7 linked regions of the Homo sapiens genome follow. The protein of the gene in region 4 purifies or fractionates together with the protein of the main gene of each other region. This does not show direct contact. Each region holds a gene or a part of one and is shown on either strand. Other genes may lie near its edges. The genes, in order: USP1, PRKCB, RPS6KB1, PHLPP2, DMWD, EZR and RDX.

Region 1 (3,473 bases), on a different chromosome or scaffold from region 4:
AACTAGATGCTAGAGCGTACTACACAACTAGCCTATATGGTATAGACCAGGGTATCTAATCTTTTGGCTTCCTTGGGCCACACTGGAAGAAGTGTCTTGGGCCACACCACACAGAATACACTAATGATAGCTGATGAGCCAAAAAAAAAAAAATCAAAAAAGTCTCATAATGTTTTAAGAAAGTTTATGAATTTGTTACGGGCTACAGGCAAGCTTTGCATGGCCTATTGCTCCTAGGCAACAAACCTGTATAGCATATAACTACTGAATACTGTAGGCAACTGTAGCACAATGGTATTTGTGTATCTAAGACGTATCTAAGCATAGATATGTAAACATAGGTACAGTAAAAATAATCATAGACTACTGTCATATGCGGTCCATTGTTAAATAATTGAAACGTTGGTAGGTGGTGCATAACTGTAAGTTACACGATACTTGAACTAGATTTTTACCTAGTTTTGTCCAGATCTACAGATATCAGGGAAAATGTGTAATATTGATATAGTGAATAGTTTTACCAAAAATGTCATCCTTATTCTGGGTTTATTCTATGGGGAGGTGTCTGTAGGAAGGGAGTTACAATACAACTGACTTTTTTTTATTTTTTATTTTTTTTATTTTTTTGGAGACAGAGTTTTGCTCTTGTTGCCCAGGCTAGAGTGCAATGGCATGATCTTGGCTCACTGCAACCTCCACCTCCCGGGTTCAAGCGATCCTCCTGCCTCAGCCTCCCGAGTAGCTGTGATTACAGGCATGCACCACCACACCCGGCTAATTTTGTATTTTTACTGGAGACAGGGTTTCTCCATGTTGGTCAGGCTGGTCTTGAACTCCGACCTCAGGTGATCTGCCCGCCTCAGCCTCCCAAAGTCTTGGGATTACAGGCTTAAGCCACTGTGCCCGGCCTACAACTGACTTCTTTTAAAGACAGTAATTTCATAGTCAGTTTTATCTTTACAGGGACCTTAAATTTCATTAATAGGGTACCTCTAATAAGCTAATAATGCTAATAAGCTGATCTATGAAAATGGAACTGTTATTCATGATATACTTTATTTAAATGGAAAATTGGTTATTTGGACTATAATGAGAAACTAATCTGTATAGACTTACATTTTCCTATTTTCATTTTAGGTGAAGAACAAATTGGTTTTGAGCTAGTGGAGAAATTATTTCAAGGTCAGCTGGTATTAAGGACGCGTTGCTTGGAATGTGAAAGTTTAACAGAAAGAAGAGAAGATTTTCAAGACATCAGTGTGCCAGTACAAGAAGATGAGCTTTCCAAAGTAGAGGAGAGTTCTGAAAGTAAGCAAAATTGGAGTCTTGTGTGGACCATGATGGAATATTTATAATTCTTTAACAACACAAAGTTTAATAGTAGCTGGTGTAATTAGGGAGGGGAAAAAAGCTAGCTTTTAGTGTCTAATGTAACCTTTCTGCTTATCTGGCTTCACTTATAAATGGTTAGCATTTGGGAAATTGTGACATCTTGATTTTGATGTAGAGTGTGTTAGAATGGAAAACTGAAATGCTTTAATAAGTGTACTTTTGGGAACCTGAGTCTTTCAGAGCTACTGAGGGTTTTTTTTAATTTTTTTGAGATGGAGTCTTGCTCGGTTGCCCAGGCTGGAGTGCAGTGGCGTGATCTCGGCTCACTGCAAGCTCCGCCTTCTGGGTTCATGCCATTCTCCTGCCTCAGCCTCCTGAGTAGCTGGGACTGCAGGTGCCCACCACCACGCCCGGCTAATTTTTTGTATTTTTAGTAGAGACGGGGTTTCACCATGTTAGCCAGGATGGTCTCAATCTCCTGACCTCGTGATCCGCCCGCCTTGGCCTCCCAAAGTGCTGGGATTACAGGCGTGAGCCACCGCGCCTGGCCTACTGAGGTTGTTTTTAACACAATAATTGAGCCACTGTTGTGTCTAGAGCATACCACAAAATATGGAAATACCATAGGAAATAATCATGAGACAGGTTTACCTATCACATATTGAAAGTTGGCAATTAAATGTAAACAGACTAGGCTTATTTTGTTTTTGCTGTCTATCATATTTTTTGGCCGATCAAATATATTTAAAAGGTATGTATACTGTTGAGGATGCACTTATGAAAGTAGTTTCTGAAAGTAAAAATCTCTTTAGTTATTTAGGAATGGGTCGGTCAATTGAAATTAAATGCTAATTTTGAACCTGAAACTTTGTGGTTTATTTTTTGAATGCCTGAGAGAAGTATTTGAGTGAAAGGATTCTCTTTTTTAGTTTCTCCAGAGCCAAAAACAGAAATGAAGACCCTGAGATGGGCAATTTCACAATTTGCTTCAGTAGAAAGGATTGTAGGAGAAGATAAATATTTCTGTGAAAACTGCCATCATTATACTGAAGCTGAACGAAGTCTTTTGTTTGACAAAATGCCTGAAGTTATAACTATTCATTTGAAGTGCTTTGCTGCTAGTGGTTTGGAGTAAGTATTGTAAATAAGAACTATATGAAGAAAATGAGCTGCTGTAGAAGATAAGTCTTGTTCAAAATGCTGTAATAGTAGGAATATAAAGTACTGAAATGAAGTAGATTGTAAAGATTGCTTCAGTAAAGTTTTGTTCTTATTAACAGTTTCCCTGTAAAAATGAAACAACTTAAATCCTTTTGATATGAATACATATTCTATTAAGTATGATTTCTTCTCCTTTTTTTTTTGAAACAGGGTCTCATTCCAGTTGTCCAGGCTGGAGTGTAGTGGCACAGCCTCAGCTCACTGCAGTCTTGACCTCCCAGGCTCAGGTGGTTCTCCCACCTCAGCCTTCTGAGTAGCTGGGACTACAGGTGCATGCCACCATGCCCAGCTAATTTTTTGTATTTTTAGTAGAGACAGGATTTCACCATGTTGCCCAGTCTGATCTTGAACTTCTGGACTCAAGCAATCCACCTGCCTTAGCCTCACAAAGTGCTGGGATTACAGGCGTGAGCCACCATGCCCGGCCAGTTTCTTTATTCATCTTTTCATATTCATTCCCTCTTAGATGTTAGTAGCAGAATTCAGTAGAACTGACTAAAGCAGGGAACAAATTTTGTATACATCAAGATTTTTTTGAAGGGGCGGGAAAGGCTAAATTCTTCCTAGTTTTAAGGTAAGCCAGGAAATCAAACTAGTCTTTCAACAGTTTGAAAAAAAATGCTGATTGTTTTGGATAGTCTGTTTTTTTCTGACATGTGTAATGTCATTGTATGTGTGACTCCTTTGTACATTAGTTGCTTGTTTGAAATTACCACGAGGGCTTCACAGTAGCTCTCTCACACTTGATTATGTCAAAAGATAACATATAGCCCCTTATTCAGTGGACCTTCCCTTTGCTAATAGTATAAAATACTATTTTATTTACTTTCCCAAATTTTGGTAGAGAAAAACTTCACACTAAAAATGACTAAAATGGGCTGGGCGTGGGTGGCTCACACCTGTAATCCTAGCACTTTGGG
Region 2 (4,345 bases), about 48 Mb from region 4:
GGACAGGTATTTGAATTTAAGTAGGGCTGGGGTCATGTGAGACAAGTAAAATAAAAAGAAAGAGGGGCAAGGGAGTTGAGGGTCTTTCCAAAGGAGTAGCTAAAATGCACCATAAAATTGAATCTGGATATGAATGGAGTAAAAGCAAGAGGGAATAGGGAGATCAAGAGAATGTGTTGGGTTCGAGGGACTGATTGGTGGAGAATGGACTGACGAATAGGGGAAGATTTATTGCAGTAGAATAATAGAACTAATGAATTGGAAAAATAGAAATTGGTGTAAGATAGTAGGGTACTTGAAACTGAGATTGAGAAAGTGGTATAATTTCTGGGATAATAGGCTCCAGAGCGTGACCATGGTAGGAGATAACTATGATTGGGGGTGAGCAAAGGTTGCAGGAAATGAGGGGGTGCTTTCTCTCCTACTTTCCAATATTCTTTCTTCTAATCTGTTTTTCTTGTTATCTTGAGTTTACAAAATTTCTGGTTTTATTTATGCTGTGGATATTTTTCCAGCCTTTTCCCTATGGGCTGTCTGGGTGCAGGTTATGGGTGATACATGGATAATAGGTGCATCTTGGTTTAGAGGGTAACTCTTTATTTCTTACTGCACTTATGGAACACGAGAAAAAAAAGTATTAAATAATGGCTATGGTAATGGATATCTTTGTCTTATTCCTTACTTTAATGGAATTGCATTTATCATGAACCATGGTGCTGTTATTTCAGATAGCCTTTATCCTGTTAAAATTCTCTGCTGTTTCTAGATAACTACAATGATCTTATGGTTTTCTTCTTTGATCTATAAATATGATGAATATATTGAAAATAGATTTCCTAAGATTGAACCATCTTTGCATTCCTGATAGGAGTCATTATGTATTCACCTTTTAGCAGATAGTTAGAGTCGATTTGGATTGAATGTATTACTGTGGATTGTTCTACTGTAAGTGAGATGATTGACATTGTATCCTTAAGAGCTGTGCAATTCTCATTTTCTAGTCTGCTTCCATTGACTACCTGCATTACTGGTTTCTGAATTGATTCCTAATTAACTACTTCCTGTTTCTCCAAGCTGATGATTTAGTCTCCCTCATCCTTTCTATAGCCAGTTGCATCTTCACTGCTGATTCCCTGCCTCCTTTTCTCCTGTAAGTTCATCTTTTTTTTTTGACGGAGTCTCACTCTGTCGCCCAGGCTGGAGTGCAGTGGCATGATCTTGGCTCACTGCAAGCTCTGCCTCCTGGGTTCATGCCATTCTCCTGCCTGGGCCTCCCAAGTAGGTGGGACCACAGGCACCTGCCACCATGCCTGGCTAATTTTTTTGTATTGTTAGTAGAGACAGGGTTTCACCATGTTAGCCTTATAGCCTCTTTACCTGGGTGTTCTGGAGTCAGGGTGGAGCTGAGCTCTAATGCTGCTGACATTGTTCCAGCCTTCTCTCTATGGGCTGTCTGGGTGCTGGTTATGGGTGATACATGGATAATAGGTGTACCTTGGTTTAGAGGGTAATTCTTCCTTTCTTTAGCTTTTTCTTTTTGAATGGAGGTAAAATTAACGTAACATAAAATTAACCATTAACTGTTTTTAAACGTACAATTCAGTGACATTTATAGAATATTCACAGTGTTGGACAACCATCATCTCTATCTAGTTCTCAGAAATTTTCATCACCTCTAAAAGAAACCCTGTACTCATTAAGCAGTCACTCCCCATTTCCCTTTCCCTCCAGCCTCTGGCAACTATTAATAGTAGTCTACTTTCTGTCTCTATGGATTTACCTGTTTGGGATGTTTCATGTAAATGGAATCATACAATATGTGACCTTTTGTGTTGGGGTACACAAATGTTCATAGCAGCAGTATTCACAACAGCCAAAAAGTGGAAACAACCCAACTATGCATCAACTGCTGAATGGATAAACAAAATGTGGGATATCTATACAATGGAATATTATTCAGTCATGCAAAAAAATGAAGTGCTGATACATGCTATAATGTGGTGAACTTTGAAAACGTTATGCTAAATGAAAGAAGCCAGCCTTTCCTGTGGGCTTTGTGGAAAATAAGCTTAGAAAACTTACAGTTAATCTTGGTATGGGAAGAGCAGTGTAAAAGTCAGAAATCCATTTTTAACCAACACAGACCAGAGTTGACATCTTATCAGCCCATCTCATTTTGTGCACTGCTTCAGCTATGGATGTTAATAAAATTAAATTTCTCACTAAACAAGTGTGATGCCAAAGAACCTTCCACAAGTTCTGCAGCTGTCACTGCTTGGTGCTTAAACATGTTGGACAGTATTAATGCAAAAACTGCTTTTTCTTTTTCAGTAAGAGATGCTAAAAACCTTGTACCTATGGACCCCAATGGCCTGTCAGATCCCTACGTAAAACTGAAACTGATTCCCGATCCCAAAAGTGAGAGCAAACAGAAGACCAAAACCATCAAATGCTCCCTCAACCCTGAGTGGAATGAGACATTTAGATTGTAAGTGGAAATGACTGCAGTGAGCATGGGTGGTGGAGGTTGGGTTATGTGCCACCTGAAATCAGGGAGTTCCTCCTCCCTTAGCTCCTGTTTCCTTCCTTCCCTACCTCCCTCCTTTTCTGTCTTCTCCATCCCTCACTCCTATCTTTCCCTCCCTTCTTTTCCATCTGCAATTTTGTATTGTGAGCCAAGAAAAAAAATTAGAGCTATTTTTTTAATAGAGATGAGAATGCCTGTGGTGTGGGGGAGTGGGTAGGACAGGAAATGGTGTGATGTGTTGCTAAGTGAAGGCAAGTTGTGGGAGAAATGATGGGGCTCAGCAAATAGGGGAACATAACCTACAGGGTGTGGTGACAGCCTCTCTAGAGTTGGGTTTATGGATGATGCTTGGCCTGCAGCCTTCTGGGACATCTCCACCAGCCTCCCTTGAGGGTCTTCCCTGGCCAGGGCTCCAAGAATCTGGGAGTCTCTTTCTTGTACATCTAGGCATCAGGAGTTGGTTATAACAGCCAATTCACTGAGCATATATGATGTGTGACAAACACTGGGTTAAGCGATCCGACTTCATCGGCTCATTTTATTCCCAATGTAGCAATAGGGCTTATAGAGGTTAAAGAGTATGCCCAAAGTCCCATAGCAAATATGGGGTGGAGTGGGATTCAGCTTCTGGCAGTCTGACTTTAGCGGTCATACTTTTTTAGCCACCAGCTAGAAGCACAGTTCCTTGTCCTGTCTCCTCTTCCCTCTCTCAGGGCAAAGCTGGGCCCCTTCTCAGCCTCAGTCAAGGACATGTCTCAGAACAGACAATTTCCCCAGGATTTTTCTCCATGCATTTCCTCAGCCTCATTCTCAACCCACCTGTGTGCAGATATACACATGTACACACCCAATTATGCAATTGATATCTGTATTTCTTATAGGCAATAGGAATTCCTGAATATCCTGAACCCTATTAAGACATAAGATAACAAAAGTAGTTAGAACTGTTCTTGTCATAGCCAGTCTAAGACCTCTGCCTGTTTAAGCCACAGGCTGTCAAACAGAAAAAGCTCTCACTCCCTGGAGAGCTAGCCTGGGATGGAAACTGAATATGTTTCTTTCAGCAGCTTGTAATCTTTAAAACTTTCTACCTCCAGGTCTTGTCCTCTTGTACATTTATTCTGCTTGAGAAATTACTACAACCTCCACTGATGTCTTTTCTTTTTCTCTATGCAGTCAGCTGAAAGAATCGGACAAAGACAGAAGACTGTCAGTAGAGATTTGGGATTGGGATTTGACCAGCAGGAATGACTTCATGGGATCTTTGTCCTTTGGGATTTCTGAACTTCAGAAAGCCAGTGTTGATGGCTGGTAAGTAAGATTTTGCCTTGAAAGCTACCATACAGCTTGCTCCATCAAACGCGGGGTCAAGTATGTTTTCCTTTTTCTCCAAAAATTGAAATACTAAAACAGAGTCCCAAAGTGAAGTCTGGTTGATTGGATCTGCCTTGCAGATATGTTTTGTTTGGTCCTTGTACTAAAAACAAAAAAGAAAGAGGCCAGGCCTCGTGTCTGACACCTGTCATCCCAGCACTCTGGGAGGCCGAGGCAGGTAGATCACTTGAGCTCAGGAGTTTAAGACCAGTCTGGGCAACATGGTGAAACCCCATCTCTATCAAAAACATGAAAAATTAGCTGGGCATGGTGGTGTGTGCCTGTAGTTCCAGCTACTCAGGAGGCTGAGATGGGAGGATCACTTGAACCCTGGAGGCAGAGGTTGCAGTGAGCAAGGTGGTCAGAGATTGAGCCACTGCACTCCAGCCTGGGTGACAGAGTGATAAAAAAGAAAGAGAGAGAGAGAGAAGGAATGAAGGAAGG
Region 3 (4,345 bases), on a different chromosome or scaffold from region 4:
CTAATTCAGATGATATGCAAATGGGTGAATTTTTAAGCATATTATTTTCCTCATTGTAGGGCCCCTGAAATCTTGATGAGAAGTGGCCACAATCGTGCTGTGGATTGGTGGAGTTTGGGAGCATTAATGTATGACATGCTGACTGGAGCAGTAGGTGCACAGTTAAAAGCTGCATGTATTATTGGTCTGTGCTGAGTCACTATAGCAAGAGACCTGTCCTGTGCTTTCTGAACATGTTACCAGTGGAGTTTTCAAAGCCCAAAGATTTGTTATTAGCAGTTTAACACTAATAATGCTGTATGATTATATGGGATCCCATACTTTCCGAAACATTTTCTTTTAAATGATCTATGTCATGGCAGGCCTGTGAAATAGATGTTGAATAGATAATGCCCTTATTTTATAAATGGAGAAATTGAAGCATAAAATCACATAGCTCACTTATCACACAGAAAGTTAATGGTGGAAACACAGGCTTCCTTCCAGGACACTGCTACTTCCTCTGTCCTGTTGCTTAAAAACTGCACGTCTGCCGGCCACAGTGGTGCATGCCTGTAGCCTAAGCTACTCAGGAGGCTGAGGTGGGAGGATCATTTGAGCTAAGGATTATTAATAGAATCTAGCCTTGACAACATAGTTGAGACCCTGTCTGTAAAACAAAATAAAGGTCTTTAGCAGTTAGCCCATTTCACAGCATACATTTCTGATCTCCATGTATAACTAATTTAGGAAATGGATAATATTATTCAAAATTTGTTTCTTATATGCTAATATTTTTCTCTCCCTGCTAATATTTTTCACTTGTCTTCTACTCTTAGCCCCCATTCACTGGGGAGAATAGAAAGAAAACAATTGACAAAATCCTCAAATGTAAACTCAATTTGCCTCCCTACCTCACACAAGAAGCCAGAGATCTGCTTAAAAAGGTAAGGTTCTTAAATGGTCACTGACACTACAAGATTCAATGACTAGGATTTAACTAGATAGAATTTAATGTATATTTTGAATAAAGAGTCATATATAAATATTGAACAAAAAAGTCTTCAATTTTTGAAGGCGAAGTACAGATTTGTTTAAAGACTTTCTTTTCATATTCTTTTTTTAAATTTTTTTTTTTTGAGACAGGGTCTTGCCCTGTCACCCAGGCTAGAGTGCAGTGGTGCGATCTTGGCTCACTGCAACCTCAGTCTCCCAGGTTCAAGCGATTCTTCCGCCTCAGCCTCTCAAGTAGCTGGGATTACAGGCACCCGCCACCACGCCCGGCTAATTTTTGTATTTTTAGTAGAGACAGGGTTTCACCGTGTTGGTCAGTCTGGTCTGGAACTCCTGACCTCAGGTGATCCACCTGCCCTGGCCTCCCAAAGTGCTAAGTGCTGGGATTACAGACCCTTAAACAATATTAAGTAGTAATTAGTAAACTATATTTTCTTTTCTTTTCTTTTCTTTTTTTTCTGAGATGGAGTCTTGCTCTGTCGTCCAGGCTGGAGTGCAATGGCATGATCTTGGCTCTCACTGCAACCTCCACCTCCCAGGTTCAAGTGATTCTCCTGCCTCAGTCTCCCTAGTAGCTGGGATTACAGGTGTTCACCACCACGCCAGGCTAATTTTTGTATTTTTAGTAGAGAAGGGGTTTCACCATGTTGGCCAACCTCGAACTCCCAACCTCAGGTGATCCACCTGCCTCAGCCTCCCAAAGTGCTGGGATTACAGGCATGAGCCACTGTGCCTGGCCAATAAACTATATTTTCTCAAGCCAAAGTAGACAAGCACAGTCTAAAAAGGAAAAAAAAAAATCAGTTTGACTAAGGTTCTTTATCCAAGCTTTTTTTCCTCTTTAAAGCTGCTGAAAAGAAATGCTGCTTCTCGTCTGGGAGCTGGTCCTGGGGACGCTGGAGAAGTTCAAGTAGGGATTGGCATCTTTGGTGTTTTGTGGGGAAGATAATGCTAGTTTTATGTATTTCTGAGGGTTATATGTAGTTGCTTATAAGTTTAGCTTATTTTGTGACTTGTAACTTCAAAAAGGTGATTAATTTATCAATCCAGCAAAGTCTAGTCCCCTCAACTTTTCTTCCTGCTTTTTTTTTCCTAGGCTCATCCATTCTTTAGACACATTAACTGGGAAGAACTTCTGGCTCGAAAGGTGGAGCCCCCCTTTAAACCTCTGTTGGTAAGTATACATGAAAGTGTATAATTGGGTGCAGTGGCTCACGCCTGTAATCCCCAAACTTTAAAGGGCCAAGGTGGGAGGATTGTTTGAGGCCAGGAGTTCAAGACCAGCATGGGCAACATAACAAGACTCCATATCTACAAAACATTTAAAAGTTAGCTGGGTGTGGCGGCTTGTGCCTGTAAGTCCCAGCTACTTGCAAGGCTGAGGCAGGAGGATCGCTTGATATTTTTTTAGAATAAGAAAAATCTCAGAGCAGACAGAAACATTATTTTTATTAGCAGTTCAAAGATCTCTGGTCTATCCTCTCCAGCATCTTTATTTTATTTTATTTTGAGATGGGGTCTCACTCTGTCACCCAGGATGGAGTGCAGCAGCACGATCACAGTTCAATGCAGCCTTGACCTCCCCAGGCTCAGGTGATTCTCCCACCTCAGCTTCCCAAATAGCTACGACTACAGACACGTGTCACCATGCCTAGCTAATTTTTTTGTATTTTTTATAGAAATAGGGTTTTGCCATGTCACCCAGACTGGTCTTGAACTCCTGGGCTCAAGTGATCCACCCACCTCAGCCTCTCAAAGTGCTGGGATTACAGGTGTGAGCTTCTGCACCCAGCCAAGCATCTTTTATTTTTGTACTATCTTGTAAAGAACTAAACCCAGTGGCAATTGACTGTATTAGCTATTTTTAAGTCAGTTACCTAAGACAAATATTTCAGGTAGTTGGGACTTTCCTTTTTTTGGTTTGTTTTATTTTGCTTAATTTAACCATTTTAAATATGATTCTCTGGGAATTTTTTCTTCAAAGTATAGAATATGTGTGCATTCGTTTGCTAGGCTTGCTGCAACAAAGTACCACAAACCGGGTGGCTTAGACAACAGAAATTTATTATCTCATAGATCTGGAGACTAGAAGTTCTAGATCACATTGTTAGAGTTGGTTTCTTTGACTACTGTGAGAAACTGTATGTTCCATGCCTCTCCCCTGGCTTCTGGTGGTTTGCTGGTAATCTTTGTCATTCTTTGGCTTGTAGGTGCATCACCCGGATCTCTGCCTTCATGTTCACATGGTGTTCTACCTGTGTGCATATCTGTGGCCAAATTTCCCCTTTTTATAAGGATACCAGGCATATTGGATTAGGGTTCCTCTCTACTCCAGTAGGACCTCATCTTCACTAATTACATCTGCAATAACCCTTTCCAAATAAGGTCACATTCTGAGGAACTAGAGGTTAGAATTTCAATGTACGAAATTTTTTGGGGGTGGGTAAGGCACACGATTCAACCCATAACAATATGTTTGTGAGTAAATCAGTTAGTGTGTTAGTTATTGTCCTTCTCCCACCTCAGAATCTGAGAAAATACAGTTTCTTTTTCCATTCCTTAGGATGTAGTTGGAGAAGGAGGAGGATGATGATGGTGATTATTTTTTGGTCATGGAGCATAATGTCCCCACTTTAAAAAACAACAAACAATTGTAAGGAAGTTAACTGTCATATACCTACTGCCCAGCTTAAAAAATGATTAGGTCATCTTGTTTAAACATAACTGCCATCCCATCATCACACCTCAGAAGTTGACAGTTTCCTTAGTTGTTTTTTTTTTTTTTTCCTTTTTCTTTTCTTTCTTTTTTTTTTTTTTGGGGGGGGGATAGGGTCTTTCTCTGTTGCCCAGGCTGGAGTGCAGTGGCATGATAGTGGCTCATGGCAGCCTCAACCTCCCAGGCTCAAGGGCTCCTCCCGTATAGCTGGGGCCACAGGGATGCATCACCACATCCAGCTAATTTTTAAATTTTTTCTAGAGATGAGGTCTCCCTGTGTTGCCCCACCTAATTTTTTTTGTTGTTGTTGTTTTTCCATTTTTTTTTTCTCCTGTTTGTAAGGATTTAATCAAGGTCTGTATATAGTTTGGTTACTATGTCTCTTAGGTCTCTTTTCATTTATAGATTCCCCTTGTGATTTATTGAAGAAACTGGGTCATTTGTCCTGTAGAATTCTCAAATTTTGATTTTGCTGATGTTATCCCCATAGTTTCATTGACCATGTTCATCTGTTCTCTGAATTTCCAAAAACTGGTAGTTAAATTTAGGTGGTTGATCTAATTCAGATTAAACTCTCAGTATTGCATGCTTTGATCAGGAGGCATAATGTGTAGTTTGTGTGTGTGTGTGTGTGTG
Region 4 (4,345 bases):
TGCCTTTCCTGGTATTCCTGGTATCGGTTTCATTTCTCACCAGTCATCTGGCAGTGGACCGTGTCGGCCTTCTGTACTCTGTGGCTGCTGTAGAATAGCACTTCCTTGGCAGCTGCTCAGTCTTGGTGCATTATAGTATTCTGTTGTTTCTTTTTCAGCAAACTAAATAAATTGGAGCAATTGGAGGAACTGAACCTAAGTGGCAACAAGCTTAAAACCATTCCCACAACCATAGCAAACTGTAAAAGGCTGCACACCCTTGTTGCACACTCCAACAACATCAGCATTTTCCCAGAAATACTGCAGTTGCCTCAGATCCAGGTACTTCTGTGTGCTGGAATGATGTCCTTATTGGGGGAAATGGCAGGAGAGTGAATGACATTATTTTCCTTTTATAAAGAAGAAGAAAGGAGTGTGAATGAGATTATTCTTATAAGGAAAAATATTATTGTCTTCTTATGTGCTCCAGTTTGGGACCAGAATTTATGTAATGGATTCCTGGGAAGAAATTAAGTTCCTCTTTGGGGATATAGTAAGAGATTGGACACTTGGGAGTAAAGAACTAAGTCTCTGTGATGTATTTTCTTTTGATTTCTCAATTTTTTCTTAGTTTGTAGACCTAAGTTGCAACGACTTGACAGAAATCCTGATTCCAGAGGCTTTGCCTGCTACATTACAAGACCTTGACCTGACTGGAAATACAAATCTGGTTCTGGAACACAAGACACTGGACATATTTAGGTAGGAAAAAATTTGAAATGGAATCTCTATGTGCTCTTAGCCCACCAGCCATGTGTAGGTCTTCCTTAGTACTGTGGAGATCTTGATTAATTAAAAGAACAGAATGAAGTTAGGCTATAAAGCCCCTAGGTTCTCTTCTTTGATTAAGTTATGAATAGATGTTCTATCCAGTAGTCAACCTGTTTATATTAGGACTACTCCATGGCTACTACCCCCCAACATACTGAATATTTTCACAACAGGCATAGATGTTTTAGGTGGCACAGATTATATAATATCTAAGAGACAATACAAGTTCATCCATTGTACCAAGACTTCATTGTATCAAAATACTTAACATAAATAGATGGTTGGCTAAAACATAGAAATCTTTGTTGTGCTTAGTTTTTTATTGAAACTCCTACCCCTTTGATCCTCCTACCCCTTTCCTTTCTCTCCCCTCCTTCTTTGCCAGTAGTTCAGCATACTACTTTCATCAGTCTCTCTGGAAATGAATCTTAGTCAGTCCATAGATTATTTTATTAAAAGATAATATTATTGGCCGTGTGCGGTGGCTCACGCCTGTAATCCCAGCACTTTGGGAGGCCAAGGTGGGTGGATCACGAGGTCAGGAGATCGAGACCATCCTGGCTAGCATGGTGAAACCCCGTCTCTACTAAAAATACAAAAAATTAGCCGGGCGAGGTGGCGGGCGCCTGTAGTCCCAGCTACTCAGGAGGCTGAGGCAGGAGAATGGCGTGAACCCGGGAGGCGGAGCTTGTAATGAGCAGAGATCACGCCACTGCACTCCAGCCTGGGCGACACAGCGAGACTCCTTCTCAAAAAAGAGAAAAAAAAAAAGATAATATTATTGTTGGCCGGGCGTGGTGGCTCACGCCTGTAATTCCAGCACTTTGAGGGGCCAAGGTGGGTGGATCACCTGAGGTCAGGAGTTTGAGACCAGCCTGGTCAACATGACAAAACTCCATCCCTATTAAAAATACAAAAATTAGCCGGGAGCGGTGGCTCACACCTGTAATCCCAGCACTTTGGGAGGCCGAGGCGGGCGGATCACTTGAGGTCAGGAGTTCGAGACCAGCCTGGCCAACATGGTGAAACCCCGTCTCTACTAAAAATACAGAAATTAGCTGGTTGTTACGGCAGGTGCCTGTAATCCCAGCTACTTGGGAGGTTGAGGCAGGAGAATCGTTTGAACTCAGGAAGCGAAGGTTGCAGTGAGCCGAGATTGCGCCACTGCACTCCAGCCTGGGCAACAGAGGGAGATCGTCTCAAAAAAATAAATAAATAAAATAGAATAAAATAAAGAAATACAAAAATTAGCCGGGCATGGTGGCATACACCTGTAATCTCAGCTGCTTAGGAGGCTGAGGCAGGAGAATTGCTTGAACCGGGAGGCAGCAGTTGCAGTGAGCTGAGGTCACACCACTGCACTCCAGCCTGGGTGACAAGAGGGAGACTCCATCTCAAAAAAAAAAAAAGAATACTATTGTTGGGATAGTTTTTGTAAAATACAGAAGAATATATGGTTTAATCTTCCTTCACCTCCCACAGCCATATCACAACCCTGAAAATTGATCAGAAACCTTTGCCAACCACAGATTCTACAGTTACGTCAACCTTCTGGAGCCATGGACTGGCTGAGATGGCAGGGCAGAGAAATAAGTGAGTATATTGGCCATGGAGACTGAGAAAGAAAAAAGGCAGCCCCTGGCATCTGAGAACTGGCCTGATGCTCATAATAGCTAGGCCATGTTGTTCTGTTGTACACAGACAAATCATAGAACATCAGCGTCAGATAAGATCCCTTTGGGATCATGATAACGTTTTAAGACAAAAACAATACTAATGTGTAGTCAACAGAATACCAAACACCCCCTTTCATGGCTAAGATGGGTAGATGCTACTTTCTTTACCAGTTACAGCTTTATCCTTCTGCTAATTTTCCTTCCCTATAGATAAGTTTTATACCCAGCAATAGAATGGCCTCACTTTCTGATGACACCCAGTCTAGTATGATCCTCTTCCTTAGACCCTCCCCAAAGTGACCAAACCAAAGTCCAAACCCTATACTGGGTTCTTTTCAGCAAGACTTACCTGTATACCCCGGGGTTCCATGGGGTGCACTCTCATTTGCTATAAGGGGTAATAAACTCAACTTTTTCAACCATAGGTGTGCTCTGGTGGTCTTTGACTGATAGGCCTTGACAAAGCTAATCCTTAGTCACTACTAAGAGAAAGTGCTTTATCTTACCAGCCTTTGGCAGCATTGCAAAGCTAATATGTACTGCCCATGAATGCGACTGTTTCCCCTTTCCTTAGGACATTAGCTCTTTCAGATGTTGCTTAATTATCATGTCTAGGGACTTTTCTTACGTGTAGATTACGATTTGCTAGTAGTCTTTGCCACCTTTAATTAATACTTACTTTTTAAAAGAATGCTCCTGGCCAGGCGCGGTGGCTCACACCTGTAATCCCAGGACTTTGGGAGGCCAAGGTGGGCGGATCATGAGGTCAGGAGATCAAGACCATCCTGGCTAACATCTCTACTAAAAATACAAAAAAATTAGCCCAGCGTGGTGGCAGGCACCTGTAGTCCCAGCTTCTCGGGAGGCTGAGGCAGGAGAATGGCGTGAACCTGGGAGGTGGAGCTTGCAGTGAGGCAAGATCATGCCACTGCACTCCAGCCTGGGTGACAGTGCAAGACTCCCTCTCAAAAAAAAAAAAAAAAAGAATGCTCCCTGGAGAATAATATTTTACCAGTAACTTTTCTGTTTTCTGTTTTCATGTTTCTATTATAGGCTGTGTGTCTCAGCACTTGCTATGGATAGCTTTGCAGAGGGGGTGGGAGCTGTGTATGGCATGTTTGATGGAGACCGAAATGAGGAGCTCCCGCGCCTGCTGCAGTGTACGATGGCAGATGTGCTTTTAGAAGAGGTACAGCAGTCAACTAATGACACAGTTTTCATGGCTAACACCTTCTTGGTATCTCACAGGTAAGCAGGTGGGTTGAAAAATCCCTAACTCAGTTCTACTTTTGGAAAATATATTTTTCTAAACCAGAAGGTCAGGGTCTAAATTATGGATACAGGATCAAGGAGAGAACTCACGTTGTTGTCTTCTATGATCATTCTCTATATGAGCATGGAGTGCGGGGACTTCGGCTCTTTCAAAAGCCTGTGGGGGTCATCTGTTTTCTCTGTTGAATCCAAAGGCTGCTGAGGATCTGGGAAGCCCAGAATTTATGTGCAAAATGTTGTGTGTGTATATATATGTGGTTGTACATTTTGAGGAGGAAGGTGGTCAGCTTTCATAAGATTGTCCAAGCAGTCAGTGACCTACAAAACAGTTAACCAAATACTTATCAGATTGATAACGTTTAGAATGCCTCTTTCTGGGGTTTTACCAAACTAATCTTCTAAGTAAAGTATAAGCCACTTAAGGGCAAAAACCATATACAGATGCTCCTCAACTTAGAATAGGGTTACACCCTGATAAGGATGTAAGCCTGACATCATAAGTTGAAAATGTGGTAAGTAGAAACTACATTTAATACACCTAACCTAACGAACATCATGGCTTCACCTAGCCTACGTTAAGTGTGCTC
Region 5 (4,345 bases), on a different chromosome or scaffold from region 4:
GGAGATGGGGTTTCACCGTGTTAGTCAGGATGGTCTCGATCTCCTGACCTCGTGATCTGCCCACCTCGGCCTCCCAAAGTGGTGGGATTACAGGTGTGAGCCACCATGCCCGGTTCTTTTTTTTTTTTTTAATTGTAATTGTAATTTTTATTGTTTTTAATTTTTTTTTTCTTTTTAAGGCGGAGTCTCACTCTGTCGCCCAGGCTGGAGTGCAGTGGTACAATCTCGGGTCACTGCAACCTCCGCCTCCCAGGTTCAAGCAATTCTCCTGCCTCAGCCTCCTGAGTAGCTGGGACTACAGGTGCGCACTATCATACCTGGCTAATTTTTTTTTTTGAGATGGAGTCTCGCTCTGTCGCCCAGGCTGGAGTGCAGTGGCGCGATCTCGGCTCACTGCAACCTCTGCCTCCCGGGTTCACGCCATTCTTCTGTCTCAGCCTCCCCAGCAGCTGGGACTACAGGCGCCCAGCACCACGCCCAGCTAATTTTTTTGTATTTTTAGTAGAGACGGGATTTCACCGTGTTAGTCAGGATAGTCTCGATCTCCTGACCTCGTGATCTGCCCGCCTCGGCCTCCCAAAGTGCTGGAATTAAAGGCGTGAGCCACCACACCCGGCCAATTTTTGTATTTTTGGTAGAGATGGGGTTTCACCATGTTGGCCAGGCTGGTCTCAAACACCTGACCTTGTGATCCGCCCACCTCGGCCTCCCGAAGTGCTGGGATTACAGGCATGAGCCACCGCGCCCGGCCATTCTTTGAGTTTTCATCAACCAGTGGATACAGAAGTGTGCTGCCCATTTTGCAGATTAGAGAATTGAGGCTAGTAAATAAGTCGGGACTTAGTTGATGCCCTTGCTCTTTGAGTTCTGGGCTCTGGAGGCTTTGGATTCAAAGCCCTGCTGCACCATTTACTCATCATGTGACTTTGGGAAGGTGACCATTCTCTGAGCCTCACTTCTCCTCCTCTGCAAAATGGGATTCCAGTTCCTACCTTGCAGGACCGCTGTTGTAGAATCATACATGGAGATTGCTCAGTCCTGGGCCAACTTGGCCTACGAGGAGATACCAGTAAACGACCTTATCCGCGGGCAGGGACTGCTCTTGGCTTCTGTCTCATTCTCTCTGGTCCAGAGGAGGTGTTCCATAAATATTCTCAGAATGAGTGAATGGCTGAAGGGAGTGAACGGAACAGTCAGTGGATTAAAAATTCATTAGCTCATCCATTCACAAATAGTTTTTGAGCATCCGTTCTGTGCCAGGCACCGTTCCCAGCACTAGGGATATCACATCTCAGGGCCCTGGACAGGAGGCCCTGCCCTTTTGGAGCTTTCAGTCTAGCTGGGGAGACAGACAGTTAATCAAGTTAAGTCTTCGTGTGTCAGCAGGTGATTAAGGCCTGTTTAGAAGAAGCAGTGGGGAAGGGGCTGAGGGAAGCTTGGAGAGTTTAGTAGGGTGGTCAGGAAAGCCCTCACTAAGAGGTGATACTGAAATAAAGACCTGAAGGAGGCAGGTGAGAAGAGTTGCCTGGGGAAGGGCATTTTTTTTTTTTTTTTTCCTGAGATAGGGTCTCACTCTGTCGTCCATGCTGGAGTGCAGTGGTACGATCTTCGTTCACTGCAACCTCCGCCTCCCAGGCTCAAGCAGTCCTCCCATATCAGCCTCCTGAGTAGCTGGGACTACATGCATGCACCACCACAACTGGCTAACTTTTGTATTTTTTGTAGAGGCGGGGTCTCTTTGTGTTGCCCAAGCTGGTCTCGAACTCCTGGGCTCAAGCTATTCTCCTGCTTTGGCCTCCCAAAGCGCTGGGATTATAGGCGTGAGCCATCACACCCAGCCAAGAAGGACATTCTGAGTATCGGGGCCAGCTAGGACAAATGCAGGATTGCACAGAAGCCGTGTGGCCAGTGCAGTTACTGAGGGAGAGAAGATGGTAGATGAGTTCCAAGAAATAACGGAGGGGCTGGCTCATGGAGAGTCTGGAAGGTCACGGAGAGATTTTGCCTTACTCTTAGTTGGAAGCCTGTGGAGGAGCCTTTCTCATTGGGGCTCACCTGAGCCCTGGAAGGCAGAAGTGACTAGAGTGATTATTTGTTCAGTTCTCCCAGGGATGGGAGGCACCTCATCCTGGGAGAGCAGCTCCTTAGTTGCATACACTGGCTGCCTGAGAGCATTAGGGCCTCAGGCTCTGGAACCCTGCTTGAGAGAGGCTGCGAAGTGTTCAGAGCAGGACAGTGCCAGGTGCTGGCTGATACTTCACAGAGCATCGCTGTGGCGGCTGCAGAGGACAGACAGGCCCAGGCATTGGAGCCTGAGGCCAGTCACACAGCATTGCAGGCTTGGGGTGGTTGAATGGGATGGTGAGAGGAGGTCAGATTCTGGGTGTATTTTTTCTTTTTTTTTTATTTTGAGGTGGAGTCTCGCTCTGTCGCCCAGGCTGGAGTACAGTGGCATGATCTCCCCTCACTGCAACCTCCGCCTCCCGGGTTCAAGCAATTCTGCCTCAGCCTCCTGAGTAGCTGGGACTATAGGCGCCCGCCACCATGCCTGGCTAATTTTTGTATTTTTAGTAGAGATTTTGTATCTCTACTTGTATTTCACCATATTGGCTAGGCTGGTCTGGAACTCCTGACTTTGTGATCCGCCTGCCTCAGCCTCCCAAAGTGCTGGGATTACAGGCGTGAGCCACCACGCCCAGCCACTTCTGGGTGTATTTTGAAGGTCGAGCCCACAGGATTTGTGGAAGGATTGGATGAGGAAAAGAGGGGCAGATGCCGAGGTTTTTTGTCTAAGCACCTAGCGGGATGGGGGGTTGTCACTCATTTGTCCAGGAATTACCTTCAAGCTGCCTCCTGTGTGCACTGCTTTAAAGAATAGTGAACCAAACAAAGATCGCTTCCTTTGGGGAGCTGCCTTTCCGTGAAGAAATTTCCTACTTGAAGCCTGACGTAGTAAAGATCGGGGGAGGGTTAGACAGATACAGTGGTCCCCAACCATTTTGGCACCAGGGACTGGTCTTATGGAAGACAGTTTTTCCACAGACTGTTGGGGGGATGGTTTTGGGATGAAACCGTTCTGCCTCTGATCATCAGGTGTTAGATTCTAATAAGGAGCGCACACCTAGATCCCTCGCATGCATAGTTCATGGTGGGGTTCGCACTCTTACGAGGATTGAATGGTGCGCTGCTCCGGTAGGAGGCTGGGCTCAGGCTGTAATGCCTGCTCGCCCACCACTCACCTCCTGCTGCATGGCCTGGTTCCTAACAGGCCACGGACCACTACTGTTCCATGGCCCGGAGGTTGAGGACCCCGAGATACAGGACAATTCTGTGGCAAGCAGGACTGTCCCCTCGCCAAAGATGGGACATCGAGGCTCCTTGGAGCACCCTGTGGCCACCTTGCAGCAGCCTCTGTTTCCCCATGTTTCCATGACCTGGTGTCCATCTGTCTTCCCCAGTTTGGGAGCTTCTCTCCGAGGAGGACCTGGGCCTGGTGTGGCACCTGCTGTGTGAGCGGGGCCATGTCCAACGGCCTTCTTGGGGACTTTGGGTCGGGGAGAAGTTCTGCCTGGGTTTTACTGCCTTCTCCCAACCCCACACTGTCTCCCCTGGCAGCGGTTGATCGACAAGACCAAGGTGACATATCTGAAGTGGCTGCCTGAGTCGGAGAGCCTGTTCCTGGCATCACACGCCAGTGGCCACCTGTACCTGTACAACGTCAGCCACCCCTGCGCCTCGGCCCCGCCCCAGTACAGCCTGCTGAAGCAGGGCGAGGGCTTCTCTGTCTATGCTGCCAAGAGCAAGGCACCCCGCAACCCGCTGGCCAAGTGGGCGGTGGGTGAGGGGCCCCTCAACGAGTTCGCCTTCTCGCCCGATGGCCGGCACCTGGCCTGTGTGAGCCAGGATGGCTGCCTGCGCGTCTTCCACTTCGACTCCATGCTCCTGCGTGGGCTCATGAAGAGCTACTTTGGGGGCCTGCTGTGTGTGTGCTGGAGCCCTGACGGCCGCTACGTGGTGACGGGTGGCGAAGATGACCTGGTCACCGTGTGGTCCTTCACCGAGGGCCGCGTGGTGGCTCGAGGCCATGGCCACAAGTCCTGGGTCAACGCTGTGGCCTTTGACCCCTACACCACAAGGGCAGAGGAGGCGGCGACAGCAGCCGGTGCTGATGGGGAGCGGAGCGGCGAAGAGGAGGAGGAGGAGCCCGAGGCTGCGGGCACAGGCTCGGCCGGGGGCGCCCCGCTCTCTCCACTGCCCAAGGCTGGCTCCATTACTTACCGCTTTGGCTCGGCGGGCCAGGACACGCAGTTCTGCCTGTGGGACCTCACTGAAGACGTGCTCTACC
Region 6 (4,345 bases), on a different chromosome or scaffold from region 4:
CAGCGTTATAGGTGGAGACCGAGTTCTATGAGTGCAGTAAAGTGGGGCACGGCACAGAGATGGAGCTGTACTTTAGACAGGGTGTTCTGAATCAGGAATGGACTTACAAAACATCTGCAGTCAGAAATTCACATACAGACTATAGTAGATCAAAAGCTCATTTTAAACTATCAATGAGGAAAAAAGCAATTCATTTACATAACATTCTCTTTCCAACTCAAACATCAGGTACAAATTGCTTTCTTTTAGCATATGCCAGAAATCTGTCATTACACAATAGCTTAGCAAGTGTGACACAAGATACTGCCACTTTCTCTACACAAAGACCCACCCAAACACCAGCTTTGTTTAAAACATTACCTCAGCACCACGATGCCTCTCCTCAGTAGTTTCTGAGTCCATGCTCAGAGTCCATGATGTGCTCAACATTGGCTAACAAAACACATTCTGTTCTTTGAGAACAATTTTTTAAAAACTGGAACCAATGGGGTGGATCTGCTTCCAAATATTAGTCCAGCCATAAAATATATACAAGGTTAGAATAAATGCTTAACAATAATTATTTTTATGCTAGAAGCAGGAGTTGGTCCATTTGTTTCTCTAAAGAGCCAGCCAGTAAGTATTTTAGGCTTTGAGGGTCTTACTTGGAGTCCGTTGCATATTGTTGTTTTTAAAATCCTTCAAAAATATAAAAACCATTTTTAGCTGGGAGACCAAATAAAAACAGGCCACAGCCAGACTCGGCCCTAAGATGATAGTTTACCTACCCCATCCTAAAGTAAAAACAATTATTTACAGTATCTGAAATGACAACTGTCCACACAGGCAGTTTAAAATTGATCTCTCAGGCAAAAATGGAAAACAAAATTAGGTTGCAGAAGTGACTTCTAACTTAAAAATATGAGCAAAATCTGATATACTGACTACTAGAGTTTGATCCTCAGGTGATACTGGTTCCTCTCCTATCAATAAAAGGTGGGTCATGGTGAGATATTTTTTATTTTGCTTTTAAGGTTTTGTTTTCAAGTATATTAGATTAAAAGGATAACTTAATGAAGTTTTACATTTCCTTTGAAACAGCATTACTGTTTGCCTGTAAGTGTTAAGAACGGGTTAATGAATAAAGGAAAACAGAACTGACCACTGCTGACTGGGAAGCCCACATCCCTCCACACTTACCCAAAGGATCTTACCAGCCGGGAGGCCCTCCCTGGTCTCCAGGGCACACTTCTCTTCTGTGAAGACCTCTATCATGCACTACACTGCATTGTAATTGCTTACATATCTGCTTTCACTAGGAGACTGAGAACTCCTTAAAGGCAAAACCAATCTTATTTTTATTGTCCCTGCACCAAGCACATAATGGGATATAATAGCGCTTCAAAACATGAAGGTGGTACCCATGTGACTGATAAGGGAATTCCGACTAGAACACACAGAGAGAGGATGGACATGAGACAAAATCAGAGTCCTCCCTTTTACTAAGATAACCCAAACTGTTCATATTGCTTTTTCCTTGAGAAGACCAATGGACAAACTTTACCCGTTTATAGGAACCCAGAGTTTTTACCTAACAGGGTTAAGTTTGAAAAACATTTGCGGGGTAGGGAAACACAAAAGAAACACATAAAGCTTACAGCATCTTAAGATGAGTTGTTTGGATTTCACTGATAAAAACTTTGTCTCCGTTTATCTTATGTAACATTCTTTCCACTTAAAAACTAACTCCCATTTTACGGCTGACGAAATTTAGGTTCACAGATGCTAAATGGCTTCCCCAAATACAGGTAAGCAGTAAATTAGCTATGAAATTCTCTTTATAGCTCTTTGTGGTTTCATTTTGAAAAAAATTATGTGTATTAACTATATCAAGCATTTCAGTCAAAAGTCTCTAAGTCACATTATAGCACAAGGGTTTTGTTTGGTTCTGAAAACTACCCAAGTCTGGAAAAATCTTTTTATGTCAACAGGCATGGATGGTAAATACATCAGAAGGAAAATAATGCAAACTTTGGTCTTTTCAACACACATTTACTGCTGAAATTAAAAACTAATTGGAGTACTTGGGGAGTCTCAAGGTAGTTACTACTGAAATGAAATAAGGGATAATTCAAAATGCATTCACTGACTTTGAAAGCAGACTGAATTTCACTGCTTCAGAATAGAGCTGAAACATCTAACTACCATTAGAAAGCAGACTGAATTTCACTGCTTCAGAATAGAGCTGAAACATCTAACTACCATTAGAAAGCAGGTATATCAAACCACCCTAAGAATCTCCAAATTGTCAAAGAGATATAAAAGTTTAAGTTAAAAAAATTAAGAAAAAAATTATAGTTCACTAAATGATACTGTTTTCCTTTCCCAAACTATAATTATTCAACATTTGTTAGAAATCACATTATCAGCCAGGCATGGTGGCTCACACCTATAATCTCAACATTTTGGAAGGCCAAGGTAGGAGGATAGCTTGAGCTCAGGAATTTGAGACTAGCCGCCTGGGCCACACAGTGAGATCTTGTTTCACAAAAAAATAAAAAATTAGCTGGGTGTGGTAGTGTGTGCCTGTGGTCCCAGTTACCCAGGAGGCTGAGGTGGGAAGATCACTTGAGCCAAGGGTGGGGGCCGGGGCACTGAGGCTGCAGTGAGCTGTGACTGTGCCACTGCACTCCAGCCTGGGTGACAGAGTGAGACCCTGTTTCCAAAAAAAAAAAATTCACATTATTTCATTAACAAAAGAGGCCAGTGTGGAAGGAATAAAAGAGGAACAAGGAATGGGATCTCTTACTTCCCTACCATTTATAGGGAAGGTCTAGCCTCTTTTTTTCTCTTTGAAAACAAAGAGCCAAAATGTGAGAGACCACTGGGCACTGCCAAATGAAGCTGTTACTGGACTCCCTGCAGAGAGAAACTCAAGTCAGAAGAATATTATGTTGAATGGCCTGCCCAAGTATAGGTAAGCAGTAAATTAGCTATGAAATTCTTGTTTTTATGGCTCTTTTTCACAGAGTCATCCTAGCCCCTATTCGAGTCCCAAATACCAATAACAGCACTCCTGGCATTTCAGCCGGACTGTAAGGCGGCTGGGCATCAAGTGACTGCTTTCACCCAAATGGGTGCTCTGAAATCACACTGGGCTTGATTGGGGTGCAGGAGAAAGGAATATATAATAACTGCCCTTTTCCTATTGAATCAGCAGTACCATCTGGAGAGCTTATTTAAAACATAAGCACCCAGCCTGCACCTCACCCTAGAGATGGAAGTCATTAGTTCTTCAAGGGACCCAGGAATCAACAGTCTCCAGACAATTGTGTACACAAAATTTTGAGAACACTGCACTAAATTAACCCTTCCTCTTAACTTTAGGTATGTACGGTGTGTACATATACTAGGGAAAACAAAAAGCTACTGAATTATTTGGATTTAAAAATAACGTAGTTTAAGGAGTCTGGTCCTTTAATATTTTGGGGGGCAGTGGATGTAGTAATGAAAGAAGGCAAGGACTTTTTTCATCAACGATTGTCACAAACTTATTAACATGTAACAACAAATCCAGACTCCCCACCTTCCCCCACACCTGGTCCTTCTCCAGGATTACTTACCTCAGCGATGGCACCACCACACATCCACTTGCGCAAGCCAGAAACGAGAAGTCAGCCTCGACACCACCCTTGGCCCTGCATATCCAACCCATCACCAGGCACTATCAATTCTACCTCCCAAAGAACTCTCAAATGCATCCACTTCTGTTCCCACCACCACCACCTTGGTCCAAGCTATGAGCTCCCTCAATGGTCTACCATAACTACCCTTGCTGTCTCCTGCCTCCTGTGATTTTCCTATTACAGATCACAGTCAACTTTTCAAAAGGCAAATCTGATCATGTCACCTCCCAGTCAAAACCCCAAGTTAAACTAAAAAACACCCAAGAATGGCTTACAAGGCATGGCCTGACCTGTCTTCCTCTCTAGCCACATTGGGCTTCATGTGAAACCCCAAACTCACACTACTTCCTCCCACCACAGGGCCTTTGCACACGTTGTTACCTCTGCCCAGGGAGGTCACGTCCTCAAGGATGCCTTCCTGACCTCCCCTATTTGCACCCCCACCAGCACATACACACTTCATCTACTCTCAGGCCTCATGTACCCCTCTTCAGGCATACTCTCTGAAGCTGCAGTTTTACATTTACTCTGGGATTGCTGTCTGTCCCCGAAACCAGACTGTAAATCCACTGACAGGGACTGTGTCTGTGAACATCCAAATACATTCATTGTGCCTTACAGCGTGATCATGGCAAATCACTCATCCTACCAGCACCTCTCACTGCCACATGGCAAAATGT
Region 7 (4,345 bases), on a different chromosome or scaffold from region 4:
AAAATAGTTACGTGCTTGTAGCCTTTTTACATAACTTGAATTGCAGAAGATTTTCATTTCTCTTTAAAAATTATTAGGCTTTTGCCAAGTTGGAAACGAGGTATAGCGCCTGTAGTCCTAGCTACTTGGGAGGCTGAGGCGGGAGGATTGCTCGAGCCCATGAGTTCGAGGCTGCAGTGAGCTTCTGCACTTCAGCCTGGGCAACAGAGCGAGACCCTGTCTCAAGAAAACAAAGAGGTATATATGTATTTACATGTGTGCTAACTTTTAGAAATTGAACAGATTTGATTTCTTGCTACTATTTTAGCTTCTTTTGATAATGAGAATGATTGGAATTAATCACTGTTGGGGGGAATACACATATTTCATAGAACTAGAAGAACAGACTCGAAAAGCTCTAGAACTGGATCAAGAACGAAAACGAGCAAAAGAAGAAGCAGAACGACTTGAAAAGGAGCGTCGAGCTGCTGAAGAGGCAAAGTCTGCCATAGCAAAACAAGCTGCCGACCAGATGAAGAATCAGGAGCAGCTAGTAAGGAACTGTCTTCTTAGAGAAAAAAGTTTAAATAAAAGCATAGAGTGAACCCTCTAAAAAAGAAAAAAAGAAAAGCAACCATTTTGTGCTTTCTGGAGAGCAAGCCAAAGATAACATGTAACTTAATAACAAAATGTAGACAAAAACCTAGAAAATTTATTTCTGCCTAAACAAAAACCTAAAAATACAAAAGAATAAGGCATTTTTCTATAGATTATTTGTAAATGGAGTCTACTGTCAGCAAAAGGTTCTGATTCACTTTGACATTGGACAGGTTCGGTAATAAGTCAGTTGGCGTCTTTTGCTTTAGATAAATTAATATGTTATAGTTATATAATATAGATATATGTTATAGTTATATAATATATTATAGATATATAATATGTTATAGTTCCTATGAGGCCATAATTGGTTGGGTTTTTTTATTTAGTGGACTTGCAAATAATTAGATGTAAGCGTGTCACTTAAAAGATCCTGGATTTAAATATTAGTTCACACATGTACTTGCTATGTATGTGTCTTTGGGTCTTTCTGAGCCTCAGTTCCCTCCCTTTGAAAAGAGGAATGATGGCCGGGCACAGTGGCTCACGCCTGTAATCCCAGCATTTTGGGAGGCCGAGGCAGGTGGATCACCTGAGGTCAGGAGTTCAAGACCACCCTGACCAACATGGCGAAACCCTGTCTCTACTAAAAATACAAAATTAGCCAGGCACAGTGGTGCACGCCTGTAATCCCAGCTACTCGGGAGGCTGAAGCAGGAGTATTGCTTGAACCTGGCAGGCGGAGGTTGCGGTGAGCTGAGATTGTGCCACTGGGCTCCAGCCTGGGTGACAGAACGAGACTCTGTCTGAAAAAAAAAAAAGGAGGAATGATACTACCTGTTAATGATACTACCTGTTAGGATTATTGGGGTATTAAATGAGATGATTTGACAAAGTGCCATTTAAAGTATATAGCATTAGATAAATATTTTATCTTTTGTGGACTTTAACAAATAGTTTATTGATGGAAATTTTTTAAAAAAGCTTTTAAGTTACACATTTTAAGTTCCTGCTACTGAAAGCAGGATTAACTAGTCTGTAGAATAATAGTAATTTTTTAATTTTGTCTCCTTAGCTCATTACCTAAAGGACTTATTGTAAATAAGCTATTTAAGATCTTAAGAAATACTGTATTTTTTTAAATGGAAGGCTAAGAAAAACATAAACAGCCTAAGCATGTGCATTAAAACTTTGTTGACTTATAAGATTATTCAAAATATGTTATTTTAATTTTGGAATTATATTGTTTACTTTAGGCAGCAGAACTTGCTGAATTCACTGCCAAGATTGCACTTCTAGAGGAAGCCAAGAAGAAAAAGGAAGAGGAAGCTACTGAGTGGCAACACAAAGTAATCATTTATTCATTTACTAGCTTTTATTGAATAGCTTTTATACCCAGGATTATGCTGACTTTGTAGTGATAAGTGTAAGATACTGTCATAATTTAGAGTGGGAAAGATACTCGTGTTATGTGTATTGTAAATATCTATCTACAGATATAAACCAAGTACTTTGGGAACACAGAAGAGGTGATTAATTTCTGGGGGACCAGAGAGTTGTCGGGAGACCCATATACATTTAAGCTGGGTCTTGAATAATGAATTAAATTTTGGGGGTACAAAAGATTGGGATGTAAAATTGGGAATAGTTAGAGACTGAAGAAGTAGTCATTCTAGACAGAGGGAACTGAATGAGTATAGGAAGTATGAATGTATATAATAGATTTGAGGATAACCAATAAGCAGCCGAGGCTTAGTGTTGTTCAGAAATGTTAGGAGATGTGGCCCTCAAGTTTGATAATAGGGAATTGTGAAAGGCTTTAAATAAATGCTCTGCTACAGCAAGGCAGTGGGAGTATCGATTGACTTGGGGCTTAGAAGATTTCAAAACAGGATTGTAACATGATCAGATATGATTTTATAAAAACCATGTAGTGATCAGTGTGAAGAAAGGATTGGGATAGTGGATACTTAAGAGATAAAGACCCAAACTGAGGATGTGAAAATGAGAATAAAGAGGAATGGGAAGATATAAGAGACATTTTGTGGTCACAAAAAGGCATGGGAACCAGTGATTGGATATGAAGTTGAATTATTTTTATTTTTTTAGAGACATGGTCTTACTCTGTGTCCCAGGCTGGAGTGCAGTGGCACAATCATAATTCATTGCAGCTTTGAACTCCTGGGCTCAAGGGATCCTCCCACCTCAGCCTCTGCAGTAGCCGAGACTACAGGCATGCACCATCATTTTTATTTTTGTTGAGAATGGAGGTCTTGCTGTGTAACCCAGGTTGGTCTTGAACTGCTGGCCTCAAGCAGCCCTCCCATCTCAGCCCCCAAAGTGCTGGGATTGTAGGTGTAAGCCACTGTGTGCAGCTGACACCGAGATTTCTAATATGAGTCCTAAGTAGATGAAACCACTGTTGTCTAAAGTAGCACACAATTGTAAAATCAGGCTTTGGTTGGAGAGTGGGGGAATATAAGATAATGAGAGTTTAATTCAAACAACATTAACTCTTAACTGAAAAGATAATTTTTTTACCCCCAAAGATGATATTTAGTTTTAGAAGATGATTTTTCTACAATAAAATGTACTTATACAGAAAACAGTTTTCTTGCACTCTTAAGTAAATCTTTGTAGCAGTTTAAATTTCATTGGGTAATTTTATATGTATTGAAAATTAGTTATATATAAATAAAACTACAAAAGGAATGCTACTGTTAATTTCCCAGTTACTCTACTTGTTTATTAGAATTTTTTAGATCCCTTTTAGGGATGATTTATGAAATTTAGAGACACATAAACTTTAAAAAATTAGCATATTACAGATATCAAGTCTGTGAATTATAGAAAATTAGAAAATGCACACAAAAGACAATTGTATTCCCATAAACTAGGGGAAATACTGCAAAACCTTAGTACATATTCTTCCAGGATACTTCCTGTTTATATATTCAACATGAAATCTTACTGTATGTACTATTTCATTTTAGTCAATTTTCATCTCAGAATATTAGACTATATTAAGAATTTCCCAAAAAGTCTCATAGCTAATTTGCCAGACAAGTGTTCAGAGGACTTTGCATTGTCTGTATTTGCTGTAAGTCTCTTTTAATGGAGGGCAGTTTCTCTTTTTATTATTTTGATTTATTGAAGGGACCTACAGAATGTCTCACCTCCTATATTTGTTTAGTTACTTCCTTGTGTCATTGACCTTATCCTTTAACTCCAGTATTTCCTTTGAACCAGAAGTTAGATCTAGAACCTGGGGAATTCAAATTAAATGTTTTGACTACAGTGCATCAAAGGTGAGACTTCCATATAATTGAACATCTAAACTGGAGTACTTTTGAGAAAAAGGGGGTATTGTTCATAATTACACCAGGACAACAGTGTAACAGGACTTTTCCAGGTAAACCAAGATAATATGATCACCCAAATAATTGGTGATGTTAGATATTTCAGGTTGTATCATATCAGAAGACACTTAATATCTAGTTAACTCACCATTAGTATTTTTTAGTGATCATTGGATTTGAGTAACGACAGTCTCATTCCTCCGTTATTCGGTTACATTTTCCCCTTGTGGCTCAAATAAAATCTATTGGGTGTGAGATTCTTAGGCATTATATGAATATCTATTTCTCATCAACTATTTGCACAACAGTTTTAGCAAACAATTGATAATCCTTGCCAGAATTAATAGTTCTTTTTTTGCATGTATGCTTGTTTTTCTTTTAATCTGTCACTTTGAAGCTCACAGAGTAAT

Evidence for each region.
Region 1: the proteins of PHLPP2 (region 4) and USP1 purify together in Homo sapiens (affinity purification with mass spectrometry; 3 studies listed by BioGRID and IntAct, with this or other methods). This does not show direct contact.
Region 2: the proteins of PHLPP2 (region 4) and PRKCB purify together in Homo sapiens (co-immunoprecipitation; one study listed by IntAct). This does not show direct contact.
Region 3: the proteins of PHLPP2 (region 4) and RPS6KB1 purify together in Homo sapiens (co-immunoprecipitation; one study listed by IntAct). This does not show direct contact.
Region 5: the proteins of PHLPP2 (region 4) and DMWD purify together in Homo sapiens (affinity purification with mass spectrometry; one large-scale study listed by BioGRID and IntAct). This does not show direct contact.
Region 6: the proteins of PHLPP2 (region 4) and EZR purify together in Homo sapiens (affinity purification with mass spectrometry; one large-scale study listed by BioGRID and IntAct). This does not show direct contact.
Region 7: the proteins of PHLPP2 (region 4) and RDX purify together in Homo sapiens (affinity purification with mass spectrometry; one large-scale study listed by BioGRID and IntAct). This does not show direct contact.

Annotation. Positions count from the first base shown.
Region 1 is NC_000001.11:62,446,204-62,449,676, forward strand, and holds part of USP1 (ubiquitin carboxyl-terminal hydrolase 1), read left to right. Parts: intron 1-1,137; coding exon 1,138-1,308; intron 1,309-2,261; coding exon 2,262-2,463; intron 2,464-3,473. UniProt on the Homo sapiens protein: Negative regulator of DNA damage repair which specifically deubiquitinates monoubiquitinated FANCD2. Also involved in PCNA-mediated translesion synthesis (TLS) by deubiquitinating monoubiquitinated PCNA.
Region 2 is NC_000016.10:24,090,460-24,094,804, forward strand, and holds part of PRKCB (protein kinase C beta type), read left to right. Parts: intron 1-2,331; coding exon 2,332-2,488; intron 2,489-3,703; coding exon 3,704-3,838; intron 3,839-4,345. UniProt on the Homo sapiens protein: Calcium-activated, phospholipid- and diacylglycerol (DAG)-dependent serine/threonine-protein kinase involved in various cellular processes such as regulation of the B-cell receptor (BCR) signalosome, oxidative stress-induced apoptosis, androgen receptor-dependent transcription regulation, insulin signaling and endothelial cells proliferation.
Region 3 is NC_000017.11:59,934,375-59,938,719, forward strand, and holds part of RPS6KB1 (ribosomal protein S6 kinase beta-1), read left to right. Parts: intron 1-59; coding exon 60-150; exon of another isoform or gene 151-154; intron 155-818; coding exon 819-926; intron 927-1,840; coding exon 1,841-1,903; intron 1,904-2,089; coding exon 2,090-2,167; intron 2,168-3,203; coding exon of another isoform or gene 3,204-3,252; exon of another isoform or gene 3,253-3,400; intron 3,401-4,345. UniProt on the Homo sapiens protein: Serine/threonine-protein kinase that acts downstream of mTOR signaling in response to growth factors and nutrients to promote cell proliferation, cell growth and cell cycle progression.
Region 4 is NC_000016.10:71,654,629-71,658,973, reverse strand, and holds part of PHLPP2 (PH domain leucine-rich repeat-containing protein phosphatase 2), read left to right. Parts: intron 1-158; coding exon 159-321; intron 322-610; coding exon 611-741; intron 742-2,292; coding exon 2,293-2,403; intron 2,404-3,539; coding exon 3,540-3,734; intron 3,735-4,345. UniProt on the Homo sapiens protein: Protein phosphatase involved in regulation of Akt and PKC signaling.
Region 5 is NC_000019.10:45,786,142-45,790,486, reverse strand, and holds part of DMWD (dystrophia myotonica WD repeat-containing protein), read left to right. Parts: intron 1-3,615; coding exon 3,616-4,345. UniProt on the Homo sapiens protein: Regulator of the deubiquitinating USP12/DMWD/WDR48 complex. Functions as a cofactor that promotes USP12 enzymatic activity.
Region 6 is NC_000006.12:158,809,173-158,813,517, forward strand, and holds part of EZR (ezrin), read right to left. Parts: intron 1-4,345. UniProt on the Homo sapiens protein: Probably involved in connections of major cytoskeletal structures to the plasma membrane. In epithelial cells, required for the formation of microvilli and membrane ruffles on the apical pole. Along with PLEKHG6, required for normal macropinocytosis.
Region 7 is NC_000011.10:110,233,679-110,238,023, reverse strand, and holds part of RDX (radixin), read left to right. Parts: intron 1-77; exon of another isoform or gene 78-319; coding exon of another isoform or gene 320-371; coding exon 372-532; intron 533-1,832; coding exon 1,833-1,925; intron 1,926-4,345. UniProt on the Homo sapiens protein: Probably plays a crucial role in the binding of the barbed end of actin filaments to the plasma membrane.